2 separate regions of the Homo sapiens genome follow, and region 2 is linked to region 1. The links come from fine-mapping of genetic effects on plasma protein levels. A gene starts in region 1. The other region holds a variant in brackets. All regions are shown on one strand. Distances are between the middles of the regions.

Region 1 (14,383 bases):
ATAAGAATTATTTTATTTCTAAACAAACATTTCTAAATTCATTATGCTAACCTTTATTATTTTTACATTATCAGATTCCTTTTAAAATGCACATTTACATCTTTTATAATTTTTAATTATAGTGTATATATGTCATTGCATATATGCAGTTGCAATATACATATGCAATTCTAGTATAAAAATACCTATTTTTATAAATGAAAAGTACCAAGAAGAAAATTAAGTGTTGAGATGCTTGGGAAATTATACTGAAGTAGCATAATACACCACCGTAAATTCCTATGGAAATAAGATAGAGTATTGCCAGCATCCACAAGCCCCCTTCTGTCTCTTTCTAATCATATCTCACCCTGCCCTGCAAAAGTAACCACTGTCCTTACTTCTAACACTATATGCTTAGTTAGATGTGATATTTCCCCTGGACCAGCAAGTCATAACTACCCCTATCCTGACCACCATACTTGATATTTTGGCTCCAATTAAGATGTAAAATGTACAGCACCTACACATGGAAGTATTTTGAGTGTGAGAATTAGAAAATGGGCAGAGCCTTTCTGTCCTGCCTGACTTACTAGTTGCTCTTTAGGATCAAATAAGATAACACATATGAAAGGATTTTATTTTTTTGAGATGGGGTCTTGCCATGTTGCCCAAGCTGGTCTCAAACTCCTGAGCTCAAGTGATCGCCTGCCTTGTCCCCCCAGAGTGCTGGGATTACAGGTGTGAGCCACCATGCCCTTCCTGAAATCATTTTGAAAACCGTTGAAACCACTTGGGTTCAAAGCTCTTCCCAGTCACTTACAAATTTACCCTCTGTGGAAGTATCTTGGTCCACAGAGGGTAAATTTGTGAGGACTTTGTGAAAATGCAAGAAAAGGGGTTATCAAACGCATATGTTAAGTGCTTATCCAGTAAGTCTCTTCCATCATTCACTTGACTGGTCCAAGAAGAAAATTTTGAGCCGTGGAATTCTCTTTTCCAAGATTAATTTTAAACATCCTTCGAACCTTATAATGGTGATAAATCATTAATGAGGCAAGCCATTATAGAGAGTTGTATTAGTCTGTTTCACACTGCTATAAAAGAACTGCCTGAGACTGGGTAATTTATAAAGGAAAGAGTTTTAATTGACTCACAATTCAGCATGGCTGGGGAGGCCTCAGGAAACATAATCATGGCTAAAGGCAAAGGGGAAACAAGGCACCTTCTTCACAAGGCAGCATGATGAAAAATGAATGCAGGCGGAACTACCAAACACTTATAAACCGTCAGATCTCGTGAGAACTCACTATCAATAGAACAGCATGGGGGAAACTGCCCCCATGATTAAGTTACCTCCATCTGGTCTCTTCTTTGACATGTAGGGATTGTAGGGATTATGGGAATTACAATTTGAGATGAGATTTTGGGTGGGGACACAGCCAAACCATATGAAGAAACATTCTTGAACAGGCCTGAAATACGATAAAATTCAACCACCGGCAGCCATGTTGGCAAAAAGTGACAGAACTGTATGCGTTTTAGAAAAAGAAATTATACTACTTATTTCTAAGAAGTAGCTTTGGTATTTTGCTTTGGTGATATGTCTATTTATTATGAATAATTTATATAATAGCTAATATTATAGATACTATATTGATACCCATTTTATTGATTTGAAATCAGCTCAGAGAATGATTATCAAAGCTCTCACACTAGCGTGTGGTAGAGCTTTGTTATGTCCCCAGGATGTTCTCTCTTAATGTGTTCTACAGTAGTGTCTTTCCTTGCAGAAACCACCTAGCCCCTCCATACCTTTTTATTATATCCTATATGATGGACATCGTAATAGCTACCTCATCATGTAGTGTTATCTTTGGAAATATTAAATATATGCAAAGTACTTATGTATATTAGTATATTAACATATTAGAAGACAGAATGATGGCTGGCAATATTTTCATATTACTGCCAAGAAGAGGTGATAAGGGCTTAAATAAACCAGGCCAGTAACAATGGGAATGGAAAGAAGGAGACATATTTAGGATAATGTATGATGTAGAATCCATAGGTTTCTGGGTTGGGTGATTGGCTGGACTGAGAACTGAGGCAGGAAATAGGAAAGGGGCAGAGATTTGGGGAAGAGCAGAGAGTTTAGGAGAGGAAAAGGTACATTACATTTGAGGTACTTATGGCATATCCAGATGGAAATTTCCAGCAGGTTCTTGTAAACATAAGCCTTGGTATTCAGGAGAAAGATCAAAGCCAGAGAAATAATATGGGTATTAATAGAAGCTAATGGATGAGATTGTTCAAGAGAAATGTGTAAAGTAAGGAGACAGGAAGAAGGCAGTGCAGTAAATTTTTACATTTAAAAGGAGGATGGGATGGCCAGGATCCAGGAGGCTTGGCTATAGAAGTAAAAAAAAAAAAGTCAAGAGAGACTGTGACGCAAGACCATAGAGAAACAAAGTAACCATAGAGAAACAAAGTAAGAGAAGAGTGGGTTATTCGTGACCTTACAGAAAGCCATTTCAGTGGTGTGGTCAAGCACTAAACCCGGATTACAGTGGGTCAAGCAGTGGATAGGCATTAGGCTTGGCTAGGCTTAGAAAGGAAGAGAACGGGCTGTAGTTTGAGGTGAAAGCAAAAGTAGGAAAGTTTGTTTTACAGATGGAAAATTCTTGAGCAGTTTTGTACATTAAGGGGCAAAACACATTTTAAAGGATATGATGTAGATAAGGAAAGAAGGAAAACTTGAGGAGAGCAGATCTAGAACATATTGGGAGAAGGAGGGTCAGGATTAGCATCAAGAGATGAGATAGAACAATCCCAGGGAATATCTTGGATCAGGAGCAAAATCACAAAGTTGCAAACAGTGGCCTGATGTTGTTTTGTTTGGCCTCAAGGTATTTTAAAAATAAATGAACTAGTTGGCACCATTAATGTATTATAAATACCCCAAAGACAGAGATTCTGAATTCTAAGAGCCACGGTATTCTTGAGGATAGGAGCCTGTGTTCTTGCTTGGATACAGCATTGGAACTGAGTAAGGTCTGCACTAAGATGGTCAAGCAATTTTGGGGTTACCATAAATCCTAGAGAGACTTCCGTTTATTTCACGAGACTAAGTTCTCATTACTCATTTGCCTAGCCATTGTAGGAATTTGAGTTTGTAACTCCTGATGAAGAGCCTGCTGAAATCATGAATGGATCAGAATTACCTGCTGAGTTTACCATACCACTCTTTGGCTAGGTTATACCCCAAATACCCTTTGCATTTGTTCAGTCTGTTGCTTGTACATAAGCTAAATCTAAAGGCAACCAGCTGGGCACAGTGGCTCATGTCTGTAATCTTGACATTTTGGGAGGCCAAGGTAGGAGGTTTGCTTGAGGCCAGGAGTTCTAGACCAGTCTGGGCAAGACAGTGAGACCCCCATCTCTACAAAAAAAATTTTTTTTAATTAAAAACTTTCTTGTAAACAAAGCAACTTGATCATAGATATCATAATACTTTGACATGCTTGATTAAAAAAAAGATTATAAATAATTTTAGTGACCAAGAACAGAATCATAGGCATTTAAAGTTTAATAGGGGTTTCCAATTTCAATAATGGCAGGATAGCTTTTATCAGATAACAATGATAAATTCTTAACAAAATAGGGTGGAAAACAATCCTTTGAAGACATTGAAGTTACTGAAAGCAGGCAGAAATTGGAGGGGATTTAACTGTTAAAGAAGGCAGCTACATTTACCCCTGAGGTTACTCCCTATGGAACGGATAGAATACAACAGAAAGCTGTCTTTCTTTCTGGAATGATGAGACTGCCACTATGGCTAGAAATTGAGGAGAAAAATCCAGGAAAGGAAGCAGTCACAGGGTGGGAGGTGGGAAATATTTCCCTCAAATCCTTGGCTGAACCCAGCACTGAGTGAGGCTATAAGGGGCCCAGAGGAAAACAACAGAGGGAAGGCTGAAAGAATGGAGCAGTTATTCCAGCTACTACTGTCCACTGCACAAGAAACAAGAGATGAAAGTTCAAGTCTTACTAGTTACAGGGCTTCAAAAAACCCATTTTTCCATTGAAACCCCATTGGATCTATGCCTTAGGAATAAGTAGTACATCCAAAGATTAATTAATTCACCCTAGGATGAAGGAAAAAGCCAAAACAGGCCCACCCTAACAAACTGTAAAACCAAGCTTCCCCAAGTTTATGATACACCTGTAATTTAACTGACTGCTGGTAAAGACTTACTTTCAGAGGAAGATGACACAACATAGAGACTCTGCAATGTATCATCCACAATGTCATGGAGGGGAGGAGGGTGGGGAAGAATGGGAAGAAACAGGAAAATGTGAGAAAATATAACCCAGAGTTTTGAGAAAAATCAGTCAATAGAAACAGACCCACAAACAATTTAGCAGACATGACTTTATTTTTTCTGTTATTTTTATATTTAAAAATATTTTATCTTTCAATTTGTTTTTTTTTATTTCAATAGCTTTTGGTGTACAAGTGGTTTTTGGATACATGGATGAACTGTATAGTGGTGAAGTCTGAGATATCAGTGTACCCTTCACCCGAGCAGTGTACATCTTACCCAATGTGTAGTTTGCTATCCCTCACTCCCTCTCACCCTCCCCACTTCTGAGTCTCCAGTGTCCATTCTGTATGCCTTTGTGTACCCATAGCTGACATGACTTCAAATAACTACGATGAAAATCCTCAAAGGTCTATAGGAAAACATGAATATTATGGATGAAGAGATGGGCATTTCAGGAAAGATTGGGAAACTAATTAAATACACTTGAATGAATATTTTAGGATTAAAAGTAGTATCTGAAATCAGAAATCCATTGGAGGGGGATCAAAAGTAGAGTGAGGTAGCATAGAATAAAAGATCAATGAATTTAGATCAACAGAATTTATCCAAACTGAAGCACAGAGCAGAAAAAAAAAATTAATAAACAGCCTCAGTGACTTGTGGGACAATCTAACTAGGTGGAAAAACAGTCTCAGAGAAAGAATGGGGCAGACAAATTATTTGAAGTCAAAAACTGCAAATTTGATTTAAAAAATAGCAACCTACAATTCTGGAAGCTCAGTGAACCCTAAACAGGACATCTTTTAGGCACATCAAGGTCAAACTCCTAAAAGCCATAAGCTAGAAGAAGTTTGCCTCAACCCCTTCTTAATGTTAACAATCCCCAGAAAATTCATTACTTGGCCAAGGCAGTTACTAGCAGGATTAGGACTAATGCTTACACATTCAAACTCCTGGTCCAGTATGCTTTCTGCTGTGCAACATTACCTAGATTACTAAACATAGCTCATAAAATAGAATTGCTGTTATCTAGTGAATAGGTTGCAATGCCCGAATATCAATTTGTGCAACAACAATATTTTTCCAAGTAATGTTTTATTCACTTTCTAAAGTGTTCTGACTTTCCTAGAAAGTTATTTGGTTATGGTCCCTTTCATACCATTTCCTTGTCAACCCCATTTTCCTGAAGCATAGCAAATATATTATCAGTTTTAATAAAAGTAGTGTTTAGGTTTTGACTTTGGTCATTACACAGTAATTTACCTTCACGTTATTTAAAAATACCTACTTTGTTTCAAAGTAATTAATCTTAAAGTTATTTTACTTCCTTTCTCAGATATTAGGGTGTTAAAATGGACCCTTTAGGGGTTACTCTTTAGTTAATCCTGTATTCAGAATATTAATTAGTTATCACTAAGTTATTCAAAAAGTGTCAACTGATCTACATTATTAGTAGTAGTTTTCAATTTGGAGAATTATGCTCTTCACCAGAGTAATAGAAATTATTTTTGATCTTGTGTATGGTACATGATAGGTTTTTCATAGAAAATTCTGGTGGCTTATACTTTTTTTCATCTTTGAACAATGTAGATAAAGTTGTTTTTGAGATTATAACAGACATAAACATCTTTAAAATTCAGGGATATTATTACCTAGTCTGCAGACAAATCAGTAATTTTGAATTTTTCAGTATACTTTAGTGAGGAAATAAAAAGGAAAAAATTATTAAATAAGTAAATTTCCTGTTTGATAGTAATACCAATTTTGACTTTCTGACTTGCACCTTGACTATTAAACCAGACCCAAGCACTTCACCTGGTGCTAAATTACTAGCACAAACTGAAACAGAAAGGTCTTCTCTCAATCATCCCACAGGTATTTAATGATTCCCAACAAATAGAGATGACACACCAGTAACTAATTTTACTTTCTTTCCAATGGACAGCCCTAGCCTTTCAAGGGAACCCTAAAGCAGCTGCAGTATAGCAGTGATTTAATGACAGAACTGAGAATCTGGTTTATTTACCATACAGAAATAATCCTGTCTTCTCACTTTTAATTCTCCAAATCCAGCTCTTCTCCCTACCGATTCTCTATCCTCTCCTAGTTGCATGCAGTCTTGTCACTGGATAAGCTTCATTACTTTATCATGTATTGAATGATAAATTAGTTTTACATTGCTGCCAAATCTTTTTAAGGCACTTTGGATTTTAAAGTCCAAACTATGTGTAAGGTAACATATTCACAGCTCCTATGAATTACCTCATGGACATCTTTGGGAGGCATTTTTATTTCTACTGAAACCAGGCCAATTGTCCCATAGAACTGATATTTATGGTTTATTTTTAATAAACATAGAAATAGACCCTACCAGTCTTAAAACTTGAAAAATTTACACTTGTGTTATCTGAGTTCCTTTCTCAGGAAAGCACCAGCAGGCCTCCCAGAGAGTATCAAGGAACTGAAACTTAACAGATCATGGCATCTGGACAATGAGATCTCAGACTTCTTACTTGTCATGATTGCCTAACCAACCACCTGTTTCCTGTTGATGAACTCCTCTTTCTTACTCTTCCCTAATCCCCGTTTTCCAACACATAGTTCCATTTCTTCCCTGCTATATAACCCTTAATTTTAGTCTAGTTTTTGAGGAACTGCCAAATTGTTTCCAAATGTAAACAGCAGCTGCACCAGTTTACATTTCCACCAGCAATGTATGAGGGTTCCAATTTCTCCATGTCCTTGCCAACACGTGTTTTCCATTAAAAAAAATTATAGCCATCCTAATGAGTGTAAAGTTGTATCTCATTGTGATTGATTTGCATTTTACTAATGACTGTTGATGTTCAGCATCTTTTCATGTGCTTATTGGCCATTTTTATATCTTCTTTGAAAAAAATGACTATTCAAGTCCTTTGCCCATTTTAAATATTGTTGTGTTGTCTGTCATTTTGCTTTAAGTTGTAAGAGTTCTTTTTATATTCTGTAGGTTGTCTTTTCACTTTCACGATAGTGTCCTTTGATGCATAAATGTTTTAATTTTGATAAAATTCAATATATATATATATTTCTTTCTTTTGTTGCTTGCCCTTTGGTGTCATATCTAAGAAATTATTGCTGAATCCAACATCACGAAAATGTATCCCTATACTTCTTTTAAGAGTTCTATAATGTTAGTTCTTATATTTATGTCCTTGATCCAATTTTAGTTAATTTTTGTAAATGATGTGAAGTAAGGGTCTAACTTCATTCTGTTGCATGCAGCTATGGAGTTGCCCAACATGAACATTCCCAGCTGAGGTCAAATGAGAAGATGCTCTTCCTTCTTGTTCAGCTCTTAAAATGGAAATGTGTCCTTTCTGTGGTCTATTTAGCACCATATTTTTCACAGTTGTGTGCTTTTTTCCTGGTGATTTTGTTGTTTAAAATGGCTCTCCAGTATAATACTGGAGTGCTGTCTAGCACTTCTTAGTACCAGAAGGCTGTGATGAGCCTTGGAGGCAAAATACAAGTGTTAGGTAAGCTTTGTTTAGACATGAGTTACAGTGCTATTGTCTGTGATTTCAATGTTGTTGAACCAATAATATATAAAATAAACATGGTGTCTTTAAACAGAAACACACATAAAACAAGTTTTATATTGATCTGTTGACAAAAATCTTGTGATGAGAGGTTCACAGGAACCTAACTTGTATTTCCTCTAGGAGGAATGGTTCAGTATTTGCTAATTCAACGTTTACGGTTACTTAATGGAACATTCACTACCGAGAAAAATGAGAAGTGATTGCATATAACATGCATTTTGTTTTGTTTTTAATTTTTTTCTTTTTATCTTCAGATGAGCATCATGATCTAGAAATTTTATATACATATAAGATACATATAAACAAAACAGAACAATCATATACAAGTTTAACAAAATAAATAACAGTTAACATTTACCGAAGACTTCCTCTGGGCTGAAATTCAAAGTATTTCACATGTTATTTTATTTTGTTAGCTCCTTTAGGTTCTACTATTTCTCCCCCTATACAGTTGAGGAAACTGAGGCCTAGAATCTCATGTAAATTACATCACTCGTGAGGGGTTGATACCAGAGCAGTCTGATACCATGGTCCTCCACCCTTAAGCAACAGTTCTGCCTCTTAAAATTGTTTTATTGATTTAATCAGCCAAGTAATCAATCAAACAAGCAATGCCAGGTATCATGGTAGGAGCTGCTGACACAGCTGTGAGCATAATGGTCCTGGCTCTTGTGGGGCTAGTAAGTGAGGATACAGAAAAGTAAATGCCCATTTTAAATAATAAGATCAAAACAGGAAATATGGGTTGCCACGCAAGCTCATAACAGAGGCACCTAATCAAACTAAGGGTGTTAGGGAATGAATCCTGGAGGAAGTAATATCTAACCTGAACTCTTCGGGCTCTAGGGGAACTTGCCAGTTAAACGGGTAAAGGAGTAGACTTCTAGGCAGGGAAAATCACATATTTAAAGGTCTAGGGGCAACTCAAATCTAGTTCAAAGGAATAGAAGAAACTCCCGTGTGTGTGTGTGTGTGTGTGTGTGTGTGTGTGTGTGTATGCAGGAAAATTTTTAAAATGAACCTGAACCTAGGTAGTCAGGGGACATATTGCAAACGGCTTTGTAAATCATGTTAGGAATTTTGGATTTGTGCTAAGAGTAATGAGGAGGTACCAGTAGGTTTTAAGTGGGGAAGAATTATATGTGTATAGTATTGTGCTTTGCTTTCTGATGGCTCTTGGGGCATTTTTCTAAAAATGATGAATTTCTAACCTTAACGATTACATTGTGTTTAGCATAAACTTTATCATGGACTATGTACCTGAAAATAACTTGCTGGATTAACTGGCATTTTTCATTCCTTTGTAAAACACACAGACAAACATTTAGGGCAAATGTAGTTATCAGCTTACATCTTCCTGAATGTCTGCCTATGTTTACTCCTGTCATTTGGTTGTGCCTGTGCCAAAAGTCAGTTATATTTTTCACAAACTTTTTCTTTTTTGCCAGTTATATGTGTGATAAGGAATATATACAATATGGATTTGAGATAAGTAAATTTTTCCTATTAAAACTAAGTTTAGGCCAGGTGTGGTGGCTCACGCCTGTAATCCCAGCATTTTCGGAGGCTGAGGCGGGCGATCACCTGAGGTCAGGAGTTCAAGACCAGTCTGGCCAACATGGCGAAACCCTGTCTCTACTAAAAATACAAAAATTAGCCAGGCGTGGTGGCATGCACCAGTAATCCCAGCTACTCAGGAGGCTGAGGCAGGAGAATCGCTTGAACCCAGGAGGTGGAGGTTGCAGTGAGCCAAGATTTTTCCATTGCACTCTAGCCTGGAAGACAAGAGCGAGACTCTGTTTCAAAAAATAAAATAAAATAAAATATAAGTTTAATACTAAGTATATGAGAAAATTCTACAAGCTTGGGAAAAAAATTGAACATAGAATGACTTGGCACTCTAATTGTGTGGCAAGGGTCTTTGAGAACTTCCACTTAAACTAAACCTGCAAATCATAGTGGTATATCATAACTGTGGTTTATGACTTCAAACTCTAGGATGTGGTTGAAATTCTTGGCCCTACATCAAAAGATTTGTGAACAAATATATATTTATTTATTCTAGGGTAAAATATGTGGCTTAAGATATATTTAGGATGTATTGACTTTGGTCTTTTGATGAACTTTTTTCATTTGCCAAGTACTATCCCCAATTGAATCGGATAATATGGCTTTTTTATATTGCACAGAAATTAAGCATGAACTACACGAATAATGAAGCACTTAAAAACTATTTAAATACTCTTGATTGACAACACTTACCTCTTAAAACAGTCCATAGTATTGAAAGATTTGAGGTCCACCCTCTACCAGGGTCCATGACCCAGTGGCTTTGCCTCCAGAAGGTCTGCTTCTACTATATTAAAAATAACTTGGCTACCCCAAGGCAGGATGACAGAAATCCTGGCTGCATTCCTTTCCTTCTGATCCACCAGTCAGGTTTTTGGAGCCATTTCCATTTTCTCCTTTCTTCTCTCCAGGAGCAGAGGTAACTTGGAAGAGATTGCCATAAAAACAGCTTGATGAAACTAATGGAAACTTGCTGCCTTCAGCTCTGGAGCCCCCTCCCCCAATGGCTCCTGCCTCACACAGACCAGGGAAAGAAAGTCCTGATGGAAGAATGATGTTTAGTGTGAGGGGCCTCACTTTAGTATCTATTTTCCCCAAAATTATGTGGTCCACATACCTTATTTTTGTTTTAAAATCACTAAAAAAGCAATACAAACTCATAGCAGAAGTCTCAAACGGTGCAGAAAGGTAAAGTCACACACTGTAAATGTAGCCTCTGGCAAGACATGGAGCCTCTCTGATCTCCAGTGTTTCCATTTGCTAAATAGGATAATGAGAGCTAATTTGTAGAGATGCTCTGAAGATATAATGAGATAATAGATGCAAAATACCTACTGTTATTTTATTTATGGTTATTGTGTCAGTCCATTTGCATTGCAGTAAACTTCGGGTGACATAAAGAAAAGCGGTTTACTTTAGGTCAGTTCTGCTGGCTGTACAACGCAAGTGTGGTGCTGGCATCTGCTCTGGTGAGACCTTAGAAAGCTTACAATCATGGTGGATGGTGAAAGGGAGACAGCGTGTCACATGACAGGAGAGGGAGCAAGCGAGAGAGAGAAGGGAGTTGCCACACTTTTAAACAACCAGATCTCTTGTGAGCTCAGAGCAAGAATTCAGTCATTACCATGAAGAGGGCACCAAGCCATTCATGAGGGATTCTCCTCTATGAACCAAAGACCTTCCACTAGGCCCCACCTCCAACATTGGAGGTCACATTTCAATATGAGATTTGGAAAGGACAAAACATCTAAACCATTAGTTATATATACACTATTTTCATTTGCTTAACCAAAAAATACTTTTCCAGTACTGAGAAGTTTGTTGTTTTCCAGCATATTGAAAACACTGGGAGGGACAAGGTAAGAATGATAAGGGTGGAAAAGGACAATGAACTACAATGGTAAATGGGGTGATGTCACAGCAGGTGACATTTATATTGCACTATGAGATGTCCCACAGTTACTCCAAATACAAAGAGACCACAACTGAACAAGGCAGGGCTCATTACTCTAGGCCAGTTAATGTTGATAAGGTCATAAGCAGCCACCTAAGATCTCAATTTGTCAATTTAGGTGTCACACTAGGCATATCTCCTCCTCTTCCAATTAACCGTATCTGTTTATTGTAGTCTTATATACTGTGTCTCCTACTCTTTTCTTCTCCTTTTCAGTTTCAATGACCTTTGGCATCTCCTATGGGTTTTGGCAAACACCTCTAAACTGGCATCTTCTCTTCCAATTTATCCCCCTTTAATCCATCTGCCATACTGAGAGCAAAGTGATCCTCCTAAAATGCACAACTGGTAGCAAGTTTCTTCCCTGATTAATTTCTTTCATTATCATCTACTGTGTGAATTTCAATTTCTGTATACAGCATCTAAGTTTATTACAGAAGTTAACAAATGTGAAGTACTTGAGCACACAGTAAGTACTATAGAAATGCTTGTTATTATTATTTTTTTAATGACCTGGTCTCCACTCTCCTTTTCAATCTAAAACACTGTCATTCCTCCATTAGAATAATTGCTCACACTTTTGCAAGCCCACTGTGCTTACACACATCTGGGCTTCACACACACACACACACACACACACACACACACACACACACTCTTCCACGTTCCTGATTTCTCCTGTGTGGAAGTCTTACTCTTTTTTATATTCTACCTCTCCTGGTGTTTCATAGCCCCTACATACACAAGATATTTTCTTCCAATTCTGAGACCTCTGGACTTGTATTGCTTTTCTGTTTGTAGCCACCACATTGGGTTCTAATTTGTTCCTGTGTTCCTCTCCCCTAATAGATGTTGAGCTCCTGGAATGCAGGGATTGTATTTTACTTATTCCAAGCACCTGAAGAAATGCTGGCACATGGTAAGCAACTAGTATTTAGTAAGATTTTTTTGAACAAATGAAAAGGATAGGCTAGAATTAGATAAAATGTAATTAAGAATATTTAATGATATGGAAAGAAATTCCCACTAGGGCAGAGAAAAGAAGTTTAGTCAAAATCTGGCGCGCTGCAGTTTAACTTCTAGCTAAGCAATGATGGCGGTGATGCAGCAAAGCCTATTTGTTTGAGATCCTGGCTTTTTGATCCGTTGGTGCCACCCACGCTATGTGCTGGATGGGGGTAATCAATATACCACCTTCTCTGCTACTTTGGGCTCAGGTGGAAGGAATTTTATTCCACTCTCTGCAAATCTTCCCGGTGCCTCAGTGGGAAGTGGACGCTGTGAGGGTCTACCAGCTCCCAGAAGGCCTCCCCTTTCTGTTTCCCCTAGGGCCCTCCACCCGGGCTGCAGCCCCAGCATCGCGTCCTCTCGGAGCAGCCTGGCCCCAGGTGGCTGCGGGGCGCGGGACCGCGGGCCCCGGCTCGCCCCTCCCCGCGCGTCACATGCGCGAGGATGCGAACTCCCCTTCCCTCCTCCTCCGCCCCCTCCGCCTCCCGGGCCTCTTCCTCCTGCCGGTGAGGGAGTGCTTGGCAGATTGCGCGAGGGGGAGCGAGCGAGCGGGCGCTGCCAGGAGCCCGCAGCCCTGGCGCCCGCCGCCGCCCGGAGCCCCGCAATATGCCGCCGCGGCCCTCTGGCTCTAGGCCATGGCGAGGCTCTGCCGGCGTGTCCCCTGCACCCTGCTTCTCGGCCTGGCCGTGGTGCTGCTGAAAGCGCGGCTGGTCCCCGCGGCCGCCAGAGCGGAACTCAGCCGCTCCGACCTCAGCCTCATCCAACAGCAGCAGCAGCAGCAGCAACAACAACAACAACAGCAAAAGCAGCTGGAGGAGGCTGAGGAGGAGAGGACAGAGGTGCCTGGGGCAACCTCCACCTTGACGGTTCCAGGTAGGTCCTGGCTGCCCAGCCCGGTCTTTCAGTCTCGGCCGGCGATCTCTTAGGGCCTCGCCGGCTTCCTCGCCCCTTCCCTATCCATTCCTATCCTCGTTCGTTCCTGTCACCATCCCTCCCGATCTCTCTCCCCAGACTGGCTGCCCAGCCTTTGGTCCCTTGATCTGGTGTCGGGAATCTGCCCTCCGGGTAATGAGCTTTCTGAGCAGCTCAGAGCACTGCGGTGGGTTGGAGAGGGGTCGGGAAGGCTGGGGGTGGGTGACTGCCTGGATTGATCTTTTTCTTTTCCCTCCCTTCTTCCTGAATTCTACCCTCTGCCCTGGGAATGACTGTAACACACACACACACACACACACACACACACACACACACACACACACCGTTCTTAAATCCCTTAAACATTTTGTTCTCTATCCTTTTCTCTCCTAGAGACTGAGAAATCTTGCCATGGACACCCACACACCCCTTTTCACCATTTCTCCATGCCTGCTATATTTAAATTTAGCCATGAAGAGAGAAATCTTTATATATTTTATTATTTATTTCTCTTTCTCTTTACCCCAGGAAGGGTTTAAGGGTTCATCTTATTGCAAAGAACTCTTTTAGTACAATAAGATGAAGCAAAACAAAACAGGAGTTTGTAATTGAAGGAAAGGGAAAAGGAGAGGGGGACACATAAGGTGAAGTCTGGAGTGGTGTTAGAACAGCAAAAGCCTATCCCTAGAGAGAGAAATCTCCTTACTTGTTAGTAGAACTTAAATGAGGCAGATTCTTGACACTGTTCAGTGAAGGTGTAGAAATACGGCTGTAGTATAGGTGGCTGTAACAGTTCCGCAGTTCCTCCCTCTTTCCCCCCATTAAAGCTCCATCGGTAAGCAAATAGCTAGATTATCCATGTATATTGCATCTCCCTACCCCGCAACCCACTTCGCTTCATGGCTGTAGATTCTTGTCTGCTATTTGGAAAGAAAAAAAGCCTCCAATTTTCTGGCACGAGGGCTTAGGTTTTGTGAAACCAAAGTGAATTTTATTATGACGTTTGTTTTTGTTTTAAAATCCTGCCTGGTAACACTATATGAGTGCTG
Region 2 (15,304 bases), 81 kb after region 1:
CAAGAAACCCAACACAGTCTTTGGAGCCCAATGTAGGGTCCAAACAACCTAAACATATTAACAACAATCTATCTTCATCTCTAGGTGATGCTCAAGATGAAAAGAGGTATCTCACAGGTAATGAGGAGGCGTATGGGCGTTCCCATATTCCTGAACAGCTTATGCATATTTACAGCCAACCCATTGCCATCCTTCAAACATCTGACCTTTTCTCCACACCGGAACAATTACATACTGCTAAGTCAGCTACTTTGCCAAGAAAGGGACAGTTAGTCTATGGCCAATTGATGGAACCAGTAAATCGAGAGAACTTTACGCAGACCTTGCCCAAAATGCCAATTCATTCTCATGCACAGCCCCCAGATGCCAGGGAAGAGGATATCATACTTGAAGGTCAACAGAGCCTGCCATCCCAGGCTTCAGATTGGAGCCGATACTCAAGCAGCTTACTGGAATCCGTCTCTGTTCCTGGAACACTAAATGAGGCTGTTGTAATGACTCCATTTTCATCGGAACTTCAAGGAATTTCAGAACAGACCCTCCTGGAGCTGTCCAAAGGAAAGCCCTCCCCGCATCCCAGAGCCTGGTTTGTGTCTCTTGATGGAAAGCCAGTTGCACAAGTGAGGCACTCCTTTATAGACCTGAAAAAGGGCAAGAGAACCCAGAGCAATGACACCAGTCTGGACTCTGGGGTGGACATGAATGAGCTTCACTCAAGTAGAAAGCTCGAGAGGGAGAAAACATTCATCAAAAGCATGCATCAGCCCAAGATCCTTTACTTAGAAGATTTAGACCTAAGCAGCAGTGAGAGTGGAACCACCGTCTGTTCCCCTGAGGACCCAGCTTTAAGGCACATCCTAGATGGAGGGAGTGGAGTGATCATGGAGCACCCTGGAGAAGAGTCGCCAGGAAGGAAAAGCACTGTTGAAGATTTTGAAGCTAATACATCCCCCACTAAAAGAAGGGGCAGACCACCACTAGCCAAAAGAGATAGCAAGACTAACATCTGGAAGAAGCGAGAGGAACGCCCACTGATTCCCATAAATTAACTCCAATGGGGATTGTGTGTCTGCTGTCTCGTGCTGTTTATTCTTGCTTCTTGTTGTAAATTGCAGTACGAACTTAAGAAAATGAGACTGAGCAATCTCATGGTTCTTGGACATGTCTCAAGCAGAGTAAATGGTAATTCAGTAATCAGAGAGAAAGATACCAAGGAATGCTTTTTCTGGCCTATTCATTTATTTTTGGGTGATGAATTTACAGTATCTAAGTTTTCAAAATGTAAAATAGCTTCAAGATGTTAGTTATCTGAAAATGTTGCTCAGCCAGCCAGTTTGGCCTTGACTCTCTTAAGAATAACAGTGAAATATATACTCCTCAAGTTGCCTCCAAAAATGTTGCCTCTACCATGGTGACTACCCCATGGAACATTTAGAAACAAAACTGACTTCAGGCATCATATTATTTTAAATGTTACTATTACGTCTTCTTCTGCCTATACTTAAAAATAACTTGATAAATGACTTGGACTGATGTTACTCTGGAGTTATCACAAAGAAAATGTTGTTTGGTCTTTAAAGAGCATGTGTATTGTATCATCCCAAACGTAAATCCTACATTTATATAAGATGGGCAAGAAGCTACTTGGTCATTAGAGAGGGAGACACCAGCTCTTTGGTTGTTTTTGGATATAACTTTACAAAATAAGTAAGATGTTAATTTAGAAATTTGAGAAATTAATGCTCTAATACTGAGTTTTTATTTAAAAATTATTTTTTCTTCCCCTCAACAATGAAGCAAGCTTAGCTGTCAAGGGAAACTTTTTACAAATCTGAAAAAAACAATCTATGACTTTGGTTTAAGGCTCACTGATACTTTTAGGCTAAATTGGTTTTAATATATTTCTTCTATTCTAAAAACCTGAACTCAGTCACTTAAAGGCTATGAAATTTAAAAAAAAAGTCGATGTGAAAGTTTCTTTTGAACACTAAAATAAAATATGTGCAGATAAAATATACATTGATTTGTTTTTCTTAAATGTTGATGAGAAGAAAAAGAGATGCCATTTTCCTGAGGCTCAAAAATACCTTCAGGATAGTTGTATATCCAGTTATTGATTTTCTTAAAAGATGTGTAAGGAAAACAGTTTCAATTTCAGGGGAAAAGTAAAAGTTTTTCCCTAAGTCACTTAAAGCCTTTGCAACTTCTTTTTTCAGTTTTGTAAGTAATATATCTATGTTCTTTTCATTATAGCAAGCATTCAATGTGAACAACTTTTTAATTAACTCTGAATTACCATTCATACATCCTAAAAATAAAAGCTCGTTATTCATTAAAATCAACTGATCCCATTTTTCTTAAAATTTCCCTGAAGGCAAATGTCTGAAGCACCTTTCCCTTGTGGGGGTAAAAATCCTAAATTGCTTTATTTTTCATTCCCTCCTATTCAACATGGGAGCAGCATAGAGACCCAAACCATGTAAACAAGTTCAGTGAACCAAAACAGCCACATTAGCTTCAGTAAAATTATAGCTAGATGTGCAATTTTTTCCTCCAACTTCTAACGTGTCAAATAACCTTCCTACTGTTCTGTGTTAACTGAAAGAACATAAAGACCCTAGGCAAATATTTGCTATATATTACCCCAATCCATAGAAGAAATAATGTTTTGGGTAATACCTAGGCTTCCTTTTTTTTTTTTTTTTTTTTTTTTTAGTGATAAGGCTCATAACAATTAATTAGAGAAGGCTTCTTATTGGTCTTACACAGAAAGATACATCAAAAGCAGCATGACTCAAAATGATTTGGAAAAGGTTAAAGTTAGTGCTCTGCTGAAGTGCCTTTGATATAGACTTGCATTATTAGAAGGATATAACATCTTTTTTAAGTGTGCATTTTCTTTCAGTTAACCAAATTAAACAGATGTGCAGTTTTATTAAAAATATAGACCTAGTGTTTCATGTTGGAACAATAAATATTGCATGTGAGTAGTATTTCTTGTTTTTTGAATACAGTATATATTGATAAATTGTTTATGTTGGAATGAAGTTAGAAACTATATAGCAAAACATTATATTTTAAGTGTTTATTTTTCCCACCTTTAAATAAAAATGTTTCATCTCAGCTTGGTAATGAAATACACATATTGGTATAAGGGTATACCATTCAGGTATGCCACTTATTTTATTCATTTTTGTGTAAGGGAAATGAGATGATGTATCCCAAGGGCTTTTCTAGAACTACTTGTTTGCTTTCAGAATAAAACCTTATTATTTTTTACACTGCACATGCTGTTCTCAATTGGTAATTATAGGCAATTTATCTTTTCTAATGATCAAAAGAGTGTGACTTCTCATTTGTGAGTAGTTCACAAATTTCCTGTTAAAAAGCTGAAACCATCTACTTTTTCTTAACCCAAGTGATAATAAACAATATTCACAACTTTCTTAAATTTTTAAATTGAAAACCAAGGTTTTTTCAAATATAAACCTAGATGATTTTGGTCACAAATTGTTAACATTTGTCGATCCTTTGTATATACTTTGGATATATATTAAAGGCAAAACTATCTCTTGACTAACTGATGGATTCATTTACTAAAGCACAGCTGTATGTATTTTTGAATACATATTATGATCTTGAGACTTTATAAATCAATTTTTATGACTTTATGCAGTTGTATAGGGATTATGCCCTTTCAGTTCTATAGGGATTATGCCCTTTTATAATACATAATATACCACAGAGATTACAAATGTTGAGGAATGAAAGCACTTCTTTGCTTTGGCAATCATTTTCAGACCACTATGTGTTTGAATCCTCTGGTATCAATACGTATTATAGGGTTTTAGAGATCTGTGGGTCAAATGATGTCCCTCAAAACTTCCTAAAAAGGTGAAGCTCAAAGTCACACATTCTTATAAGGCGCATGAGTTTCTCATTTTCCCATGTACGAGCATTGTAAAGGAATTCAGCTGTATTAATTTCTATTTCAGATCTAGAATTGACATTTTGCCTTCTTGTTTCCAGGTGTTTCTATTTTTTGTATTCTTTCAGAGAAATCTCATATTTCGGTGTATTTATTGCTGTTACTACTATATTTACTGCTGAAAACTGTAACAACCTGAAGATTTGTAAAATGTTAAACATAGTTCATTAAAAATAATAAAATAAATCTAAAATGTACTTGGAGCATTGTTTAATTTTTGGTGAACTAGAAAACATTCCTCCCTACATTGCCATTTAATCTAGTAAATATTCAATTATTACTTTTTACTTATTACATCTCCTACAGTAAAATAAACCCTTTTATTTATATAATGAACTCGATATTTCTTTATATTTCATGTCTACAAAGTCCCAATTTTTACTATTAGAGCTGAGTGTGGACAAATTGTTTTCCATCCACTGAGGAGATTTAAGACAATCTGATTGAATCTAAAATAAATTACAAATCCCAAAACACCTAAGTGAGAAAATGATACAGTAAACCCTCAACCCCCTTTTAAAATATTCTTTGAACTCTAAACCTGAGTCTAAATGATAACACAAAGGCTATTTATACTTAAAAGAGTTAGCTCTTCAATAACCTTTCTGCTTAATCAATTGAACAATATTTAAGTTCATGCAGTTTGTATTAGGGGACTTTAGAATACTTTCTAGAATTATCTTGACTGCCATGTTTTTAGACATGTAACTTTTATACATTAATAAGGTACTAAAAATAGCTTTGGTCAGTTCTAATAGGAATTGGACTCTGAATCCACTCACCAGTAGACATTGTAATTCCCAGCACTGGCTGTATGATAAATACTTCCACTTGGATCCCTGCATGTGCCAGCCAAGCTATGGCTACCTTTGTTAGGGAGCCTGGTCTCCATCCAAGAGAGTCTTAGTCTTACCAGAAATTATATGGCCCCTGGAGGAGCCATAGGGGACGCTAACTCACATGGTACTGGTTTGTAACAAAACTATTCATCAATCAGAAACAGCTGGCAAACATGATGGTCATGAACTGATCATCACATTCTCATCTCAGAAGAGAAACTAATATGGGAAGACTGAGATGTAAGAACTGTAAGAAAAGTAGTTGGATATAATTAAGAGACATTTTAATCAGTTTATCAAAAGTGATTCACCTTTTGGTACTTAATAACTGGCAGATAATCAGGGATCCTTTCCTTGAAGTAAATGTTGGAAAAATATTTAAACTACACCACAGTGTTTGTTTACCTAGACCCCATGAAATCACCCTGTGGACCTCTTTTTATAGGTGGATTTCTTGACAGATGGATACACAGTGAGACAGCTTACTTATATCGGTAAGCTCTCTCTAAATCAACTAGAGGGCTAATTTCTTCTAGGAAAAATTGCCTTATTTTCTTAGTTTTGAATTTGTTTGCTCCATCAAAATAAATATTCTTTCTTTGACTTGTCTTTATCTTTTCATTTTGAGCTTCAGTTTATTTGGGGACTAGATTTCTGCCTATTAAGATTTTTAAAACATAACATCTTCAGAGTTTGACTAGAAGAAAATAGTCTAGAAGTCAACCATAATTTGCCATATTAAATGCTGAAAGCTAATAATCTCAATGACAAATGATGGAAAAACATTTTCATCAAGTATATAATGGTACGTGCCTTAGAAAAAAATAACTATTTTCTTTCCAAAATAGCTAAGCTTAAAGATTACATTTTAAAACTACCTGTGATGTTTGTTAAAATATTGCAATAACACGTTCCTGCACTTTGTTAGCTATAGTAGATGAATAGCTTCCTATTTCTTTTGGGAAAGTTTACATGATGATGTAAACCCACAGATTATTTTTAAAAAAGAAAGTTCACATCTTTAGAAGCATATGCTATTTTATCCCCCTAGGTAACAAAACCTTTCTTAGTTGAAACCTATTATTTCCTGGTTTTCAAGCCTACCTCTGCTATGGTTCTGAATGGTATTCCACAGTCTTGCAAGAGTACCAGATTTTCCCCATGGATTGATTTTTTTTCTGTTCTTCAGGTTGACTGGGGGTTTCATAATTCATATGTTGACTAGTTCTAATCCTTGTAGACCTTATTAAAACACTAGACTAACTGCAGACAGTCTGATTCAAAACAAATAAGACAATTACATTCCCAAGAGTCTCTGGACTTATTACACTTGAACAGCTTAGTTAGAAACTTTTTCTAAATGGGGGCTATCCGGAAAGGGTAATAGTGGCTATTAAGCAATGTAGAGTAAATATCTCAGAATTTTTATTTTACATATTTCCATATTTCAATCCAATAATGTAGATTCTTTTGTTTTTCATAGAAAAATACTTTAAAAAATTCAGCTTAAAAAATTAGCTTATCAGTATCCAAAATTTTATAATAAAGACTATTTCAAAACCCTGATTTCTGATTTAGATAATTTCTGAAAGGTTTGTGTCCATAAAATACAAAAAAGGATAATTATTAACATACTTTTGCAGATATTTTCTCATTGTTACTTTTAAAAATTTAGTATTTCTGATTTTTAAAAGAGTTGCTTGTCATTATTCCATGTATTATTTAACAAAACACTATTGATGTGAATATTGACCATTGAAGAGGTTGTTAATGACAAGTAGATGAGATCTATAATTAAGGAGTTTACCAATTATTTCTAAGGAGTGCTTATACTTATAAAAGGAAGGGAAAAATTATTTCTCTGAATAAGTTTTTTTCCTTAATGTTTAAATAAAATGACAAGAAAAGAATCTTGAAAGTGAATTTCATGCTAACAATCTTTAACACATACCTGTTTTCTGAAACTCTGGTTTCTCAAAAAGTAATGCTTGCCACTGTTCTATTATTTTCTTTTTTCACAATGAGACATAAGAGCAAGCTGTAATGAATCAGTGATAAGAGAATTGTACTTACTCTTCTTGAAATTGGGACCTGTCTTTCCTGCCTTTTTTTTTTTTAAGTGAAGATGAGATTTGATACTATTAAAATTAGCCTTAGTAAGAAATTAATCTGAATCAGGAAATTTTGAAAATTCCATCTGCCCCAAGATGAGCTCATTTCACTTCTAAAGAAAATACTGCCTGATTGCATGTACAAAATTGTTATGTTGATATCTTATGTTTGTCTTCTTAGACCATAAGATCCTTATGGACAGAAACCATGCTTTACAATTCCTCCAATTCTTAACAGTACAGTATGTATTCAATAAATATTGATTAATGGAGTTATGAATTAGATGAATGATAATGGATTTTGTTCAATGGAATAATTGGAAATGTTTTGAGAAGAGGAGAG[A/G]GTGACATCAGCAAGATGGTAAAATAGGAGCTCCCCTGCTTGTATCCTCTCAAGCAACAAAGGCAAAAGTGGCTTTGTGGGAGCTCTGGAATTCAGATAGGAGTTTGTGAAAACCTCCTGGAGCTCAAGACCTAGTAAGGCCATTCTAGAGGGTAGAACTATGCCCATGTAGAAAGCTCACAGGCTATGGTCCCAGTTCCAGACCTGGAAATGGCCCTGTCATCCTGAGGACTCAGTTGCAGCCATGTTTGGCCTTGATCCTGCTACCACAATCACCCACCAAGGAACCCAGGTAGAGTCACACCATTTATGCCTTCAGTGACAGGCCTGCTGACTTTGTTTCTTCCTGTGGACCCTGAAATGGCTAAGAGACTTGTCTTCAGCTCTGTCAGCTGCAGACTGCAAGCAGTCCTGCCCCATGAGGTCCCCAGGGGGAGACATACTTGTCTCTCAGTTCCTAGAGGCAGGCCTGTCAACCTTAGTCTCAGCTGTGGAACCTGAAGCAGCCCTGCAACTGTTTAAGTCCCTCACATCTGTGGGCTGGGGACAACACTGCCTGTCCAGAGAACTACTCAGTGACCCAGGGGGAGCCTTCCCAGAAACCCACATGAAGCCACACCAGTCTGTGCAGCTGGTGATAGGCTAGTTGTCTGAGCGAACTTGAAGACAGGTAAGTTGAAATTACCCAATTATAGAAAGAAAAAGAATGAAGGAAGCATAAGGGACTTATGGGACACCATCAAATACAAATATATTATTAATTATGGGAGTTTCTGAAACAAGAGAGAGAGAGAAAGCTAAAGAAAGCTTATTTCAAGAAATAGTAGCTGAAAATTTCTCAAATATTGAGAGGATCCAGATTCATGGAGCTCAGAAAACCCTAAGCAAGACTGACCCTGTATTAGGCTGTTCATACATTGCTATAAATACTTGAGACTGTGTAATTTATAAAGAAGAGACTTAATTGGCCAATGGTTCTGCAGGCTTTACAGGAAGCATGGCGCTGGCATCTGCTCAGCTTCCAGTGAAGCTCCTCAAGGAACTTTCAATCACGCCAGAAGGTGAAGGGGGAACAGGCCTGTCACATGGTGAAAGTAGGAGAAAGAAAGAAAGAGAGAGAAAATGGAGGCGATGCGGGGAGGGTGCGGGCGTGGGTGCCATATACTTTTAAGTGACCAGACCTTGTGAGAACACACTCACTCTCATAAAAACAGCACCAAGCCACAAGGGATTCACCTCCATGATCCAAACACCTCCCACCAGGCTAAGAATTACAATTCGACATGAGATTTAGGCAGGGACAAATATCCAAACTCTATCAGACCCAAAGAAGAATATTCTGAGACATATTATGATCAAATTGTCAAAAATCAAAGATAGAATCTTGACAGCACCAAGAGAAAAGTGCCTTATTACACACAAGGGAACCTTCATAAGACTATCAGCAGACTTTTCAACAAAACCCTTGCAAGCCAGGAGGAAGTAAGATAACATATTCAAAGTGCAAAACAAAAAAAACAAACTGTCAATAAGTAATACTATAACTGGCAAAGCTGTCCTTCACATATGAAGGACAGAGAGACATTCCCTGACAAAGAAAACCTGAGAGACATCATCACCAGTAGACCTGCCTTACAAGAAATAATGAAGTTCTTAGAGTTGAAACAAAAGGATGCTAAATAGCAACATGAAAACATATGAAAGTACAAATGTTTCTCAACTTATAATGGGGAAACATCCTGATAAACCCATCATAAAGTCACAAAATTATAAGTCAAACCAATGTAAGTTGGGGACCATCTGTACAAAATTCACTGGTAAAGGTAAATATTTAGTGAAATCCAGTATACTCTAATACTGTAATAATGGTGTGTAAATGACTTTTAATTCTAGTACAAAAGTTAAAAGACCAAAGTATTAAAAATAACTGTAACTACAATTTGCTGATAAATAAACAAAATAGAAAGATGTAAAATATAACATCAATAGCCTAAAATGTGGTGAGGAGCGAAATAGAAGTGTGGGTTTTGTATGCTATTGAACTTAAGCTTTTAGTTCAAAATAGAATGTTATAACAATAAGATGTTTCGTAAAAGTCCTGTGGTGAACACAAAGAAAAAATAAACCTCTAGTGAATACACAAAGATAACAACAAAAAAAAACCAAAGCATGCACTTCAAAAATCTAACAAATTACAAAGGAGGAAGAAAAGAATGGTATAATGGAAAAAAGGAATGATGAAACAATTAGTAAACAACAAAATGGCAAAAGTTCTTACATATTGATTATTACTTTACATGCAAATGAATATATTTTCCAATCAAAAGACACAGTGTTTAAATGGATTAAAAAATATGATCTCAGTTGGAAAAAAAATGGCAGATAGGAGACAGGACTAACTTCAGCTCCCACTCAGAGCAGTGTGTGGAGGCTCACACTGTGAACTTTTGCTCCAAGGATTAGTGCAGTAACATACCAAGAAAGCCAGAGACTCCACAAGCCCTTTGAAGGAAGCGGCTTGCTGTTGCAGGTTCTGTGAGACAGCCAAAAGAATGTGAGTATTCAAAGTGTAAAAGAGGGAACATCCACCCCCAAACACACATCCTCACTGGGAAACCTAAAGGTTCAGATCACAGGAGAAGAATTTGACCTTACCTGGCGCTGAGACAAATTTAGAGAGCTGAGAAAAATATGGGGGTAGAAGAAGCACAGGGAAGAGTCCTGTGGGCACTCTCAGTCCCCAGGGAAGCCATTTCTGACTTTATTTCATAGGGGTCCTTGGGGAGGGCTGGCAGTGGAACTGGGGAAAGATGAAAGATTCAGGAAACATTCAGCTGAACTTTGTAACAATTTCAACTCAAGGTGAAGGTTCCTGGACAGAAACTGGGGGAGGGAGTGACCTGGAGTACAAATATGAACACAGAAGCTGCAGAAGGTAGGGAGGCATGAAACCTGAAAGCCCTGTTTACTTTCTCAGCAGGGAGGCTTGTAGCCTGGGGCAAGTTCTCAGCCCTGCTCACTGGCTGCCTGGAAATAAACTCAGTGTGGTTAGGGGGACACAGTGGGAGTGAGACTAGCCTTTCCAGCTGCATGGGAGCTGTGTGAGTCCTGTCACTGCTGGCTTTCCTGCACTTCTCTGGTGACCTGTATGATATGACAGAGGCAGCCATAATCTCCCTGGGAATGTAACTTCATCAGCCTGAGAACCACACTCCAATCCTCCACAACAGCCTAAGCATGCCCTGCCCAAGGAGAGTCTGAGCTCAGACACACCAGACCCTGCTCCCACCTGATGGTCTTTCTCTACCCGCTCTGGTAGCTGAAGACAAAGGACATAATTTCTTGGAAGCTCTGTGGCCCCACCCACCACCTGAGACACCCAAATACTTACCCAGGTGACCTTAGGGCAAGCTTGTATACTCCCTGTAATACTGCAGCTGATACTCTCTTGAAAGCACCACCTCCTTGCTGGAGGCCAACCAACACAAAACCAGTGCACTAAGCAAAAATACAACCAAGGACTCTCACAGAGTCCACTTCACTCCCCTGCTACATGCGCTGGAACAGGTTCTGGTATCCACGACTGAGAGACCTGAAGATGGATCACATCACATGACTCTTTGCAGACACTCCACAGAACCAGCCCAGAGCCCACTAGCTCTGCTGTGTGGCTGGATCCAGAAGAGAAACAACAATCACTATAGTTGAGCTCTCAGAAACCCCCATCCCCAGGGGAATGGGGAGAGTACCACATCCCCATAAGACAAAAGAATTCAAACAGCAGCTCTTGAGCACCGTATCTTCCTTCTGACATAGTCTACCCAAATGAGAAGAAACCAGAAAAACAATTCTGGTAATATGAAAAAACAAGGTTATTTAACACCCCCAAAAGATCACAATAACTCAGTAGCAATGGATCCAAACTGAAAAGAAATCTCTGAATTGCTAGAAGAATTCAGAAGGTTGATTTTTAAGCTACTCAAGAAGGCACCAGAGAAAGGTGAATACAAACTTAAAGAAATTTTAAAAATGTCACAGGATATGAATAGAAAAATAGATAAACAGCATAAATAAAAAATAATCACAACTTCTGGAAATGAAGGACATACTTAGAGAAATGCAAAATCCACTGGAAAGTCTCAGCAATAGAATTGAACAAGCAGAAAAAAGAACATCAGAGCTTGAAGACAAGGCTTTTGAATTAACCCAACCCAATAAAGACAAAGAAAAAAATTAAAACGGAGCAAAACCTTCAGGAAGTTTGGGATTATGTTAAAAGACCAAACCTAAGAATAATTGGTGTTCTTGAGGAGGAGAAATCTAAACATATTTGAGGGAATAATCATTCCACTATGGAAAACAGTGTGGAGATTGCTTAAAGAACTAAAAGTAGAACTACCATTTGATCCAGCAATCCCACTCCTGGGTGTCTACCCAGAGGAAAAGAAGGTATTATACAAAACATATACTTGCATATGCATGTGTATAGCAGCACAATTCACAATTGCAAAAATATGAAACTAGCCTAAATGCTCATCAATGAGTGGATAAATTGTGGTGTATATATGCATTAGTCCCTTTTCACGCTGCTGATAAAAACACACTGAGACTGGACGATTCACAAAAGAAAGAGATTTAATGGACTTACAGTTCCACATGGCTGGGGAGGCCTCACAATCATGGTGGAAGGCAAAGAGGAGCAAGTCATATCTTACATGGATGGCAGCAGGCAAAGAAAGAGAGCTTGTGCAGGAAACCTCTCATTTTTTAAAATCATCAGATCTTGTGAAACTTATTCACTATCACAAGAATGGCATGGGAAAACCTGCTCTCCATGATTCAATTACCTTCCACCGGGTCCCTCCCACAACACGTGGGAATTCAAGATAAGATTTGGGTGGAGACACAGCCAAATCATATCAATATATACCATGGAATGCTACTCAGCCATAAAAAGGAATGAAATAATGGCATTTGCAGAAATCTAGATGGAACTGGAGACCATTATTCTAAGTGAAGCAACTCAGGAATGGAAAAGGAAACATTTTATGTTCTCAATCATAAGTGGGAACTAAGCTATGAGGATGCAAAGGTGTGGAAATGGGACTTTCGGGACCTAAGGAAAGGATGGGAGCAGGGAGAGGGGTAAAAGACTACACATTGGTACAGTGTACATTGCTTGGATGTTTTGGTTTACCAAAATCTCAGAAATCATCACTGAAGAAGTTATTCATATAACCAAACACCACCTGCTCTCCAAAAACCTATTGAAATAAAAAAATTAATAAGTCAAAAAATATGATCCAATAATATTCTATGTACAAAATACTCACTTTAGGCTTGAGGACACATAGAAAGTACATGAATGAAAAAAGATATTCTATGCAAGTTATAACCAAAGAGAGCAGGGGTGCCTATACTTATAAAAGAAAAAAACAGACTAAGTCAAAAACTGTAAAGCTGTAAAATTCTAGTGTAGTAGTAAATGCCTGCATTAGACAAAAGTGTTAATATATAATAAAGATGTCAATTTATCAAGAGGTTATAACAATTGTAAATATATAGGCACCCACCATCAGATCATCTGAATATAACAGGCAGATATTAACACAAAGGAGAAATACACAGCAATGTAACAGTGGCGGACTTTAATATTCCACTTTCAACAATGGATATATTATCCATACCAAAAAGGAAAAAAGTCAATAAGGATGAAGTGGACTTGAATGATAAACCAAAGGAACCTAGCAGACATATAGAGAGAGCATTCCATCTAACAGCAGCAGAATACATATCCTTCTCAAATACACATGAAACATTCTCCAGGATTGATCATATGTTGTGTCATAAAACAAAACAAATTTAAGAAGATTGAAATCATCTCAAATATCTCTTCTGACCACAATAATATGAAACTAAAAAGCAATGATAGGAAGATTGAAAAATTCATAAATATGTGGAAATTAAGCAATAGGTTTCTGATCAACTAATGGATCAAAAAAGAAATTAAGGCCGGACGCGGTGGCTCATGCCTGTAATCCCAGAACTTTGGGAGGCTGAGGTGGGCAGATCATGAGATCAGGAGATCGAGACCTTCCTGGCTAACATGGGGAAACCCCGTCTCTGCTAAAAATACAAAAAATTAGCTGGACGTGGTGGCAGGCACCTGTAGTCCCAGCTACTCGGGAGGCTGAGGCAGGAGAATGACATTAACCTGGAAGGCGGAGCTTGCAGTGAGCCAAGATTGTGCCACTGCACTCCAGCCTGGGTGACAGAGCGAGACTCCATCTCAAAAAAAAAAAATAAATAAATAAAATAAAAAAGAAATTAAACTAGAAATTAAAAAATATATTAATACAAAAGAAAATGGAAACAAAACATATGAAAGCTTGTGGAATGCAGCGAAAGCAGTAAATGCCTACATTATAAAGGAAAAAAATCCAAATATGCAAGCTAACATTACACCAAAAGGGTCTGAAAAAAGAAGAACAAACCAAGAAAAAGTTTGTATAAGGAAGCTAATAAAGATCAGGCCAGGAAAAAATAGAAATTAGGAAAACAATGGAAGAGATTAATAAACCTAAGAGTTGTTATATTTTAAAAGATAAGTTGATATACCTTTCACTAGAAAAAAACAGAAGACTCAAAATCAGAAATAAAAGAGGAGCTATTACAACTAAAGACACAGAAATAAAAAGGTTAATAAAAAGACTATTACCAATTATACACCAACAAATTGGATAACCTAGAAGGAATGGATAAATTTCTAGATACACATAACCTACTAAGACTGAATTATGAAGTAGAAAATCTGAGCAGATCAATAACAAGCAAGGAGATTGAATTAATAATTTTAAAAAAATCACTCACCAAAAAAAGCCCAGGATCCGATGGCTTCACTGCTGAATTCTATGAAACATTTAAAGAAGAACTAATACCAATCCTTCTGAAAGTCCTCCAAAAATCAAAGAAAAAGAAATAACTTTCAAGTGAATTATATGAGGCCCTGATACCAAAGCCAGACAATACCATTACAAGAAAATTACAATCCAATATCTCTGATGCACACAGATGCAAAAATCCTCATCAAAACACTAGTGAACCAAACTTAACAGCACATTAAAATGATTATTCACTGTGATAAAGTGGGATTTATTAATGGGATGTAAGGATGGTTCAATATATGCAAATCAATAAATTGATATGCCACATTAACAGAATATAGGACAAAAATCATATTATCAATGCATCAAGAAAAATTATCTAACAAAATTCAACATCCTTTCATGATAAAAACTACCAATAAATTAGTTACAGAAGGAATGCACCTCAACATCATAAAAGCCGTATGTGACAAGCCCACAGCTTACATCATACTCAATGATGAAAAGTTGAAAGCGTTTCCTTTAAGATCTGGAACAATATTCACTCTCACAACTTCTATTCAAGTAGTACTGGAAGCCCTAACTAGAGCAATTACGCAAGAGAAAAAAAAAAGTATTAAAATCACAAAGGAAGTAAATTGTCTCTGCAGATGACATAATCTTATATATTAAAAGCTTTAAAGGCTTCAAAGAACTTTTAGAACTAATAAATGAATTCAATAAAGTTGCAGGATACAAAATCAATGTACAAAAATGAGTTGCCTTTCTAAACACTAACAATGAATTATCTGAAAAAGAAATCAAGAAAACAATCCCAATTACAGTAGCTACAAAGAAAATAAAATGCTTAGAATTAAATTTAACCAAGGAGGTAAAAGATCTGTACACTGAAAACTATGTAAGATAATGAAAAAAGAAGACACAAATGGAAAGATATCTATGTACAGGGATTCGGAAAATATTGTTATAATGTCTATATCACCCAAAGAAATCTACAAATTCAATACAATCCTTATCAAAATTCCAATAACATTTTTTACCAAAATTTTAAAAATTCTAAAATTTGTAAAGAAGCACAAAAGACCCTGAATAGCCAAAGCAATTCTGAGCAAAAACAAAGCTGAAGCCACATACTACCC

Alleles and levels. Alleles are on the strand shown, and positions count from the first base shown. The strength of an association depends on the size of the effect and on how common the allele is.
As copies of A replace G in region 2, the plasma level of the protein whose gene starts at base 12,944 in region 1 goes up (moderate association).

What was found. PIP is the chance, under the fine-mapping model, that this variant and not a neighbour inherited with it causes the effect. Protein levels are from antibody-based Olink assays in UK Biobank. Linkage for the fine-mapping came from a reference panel and not from the study's own genotypes, which makes the PIPs less certain.
Region 2: its variant is fine-mapped to the plasma level of the FAM171B protein (UK Biobank, PIP above 0.99).

What each region holds. Positions count from the first base shown.
Region 1 is chr2:186,681,117-186,695,499 of GRCh38, forward strand. It overlaps FAM171B (family with sequence similarity 171 member B), which reads left to right and starts at 12,944. Exons shown (of 8, transcript NM_177454.4): 1 at 12,944-13,295. The coding sequence starts at 13,058. RefSeq lists a silencer at 12,748-13,107.
Region 2 is chr2:186,761,775-186,777,078 of GRCh38, forward strand. It overlaps FAM171B (family with sequence similarity 171 member B), which reads left to right. Exons shown (of 8, transcript NM_177454.4): 8 at 1-4,185. The coding sequence ends at 1,049. Among named protein-coding and RNA genes, the nearest start is that of FAM171B, 75 kb to the left of the region's middle. The variant A/G (reference allele first, on the strand shown) is at 7,282.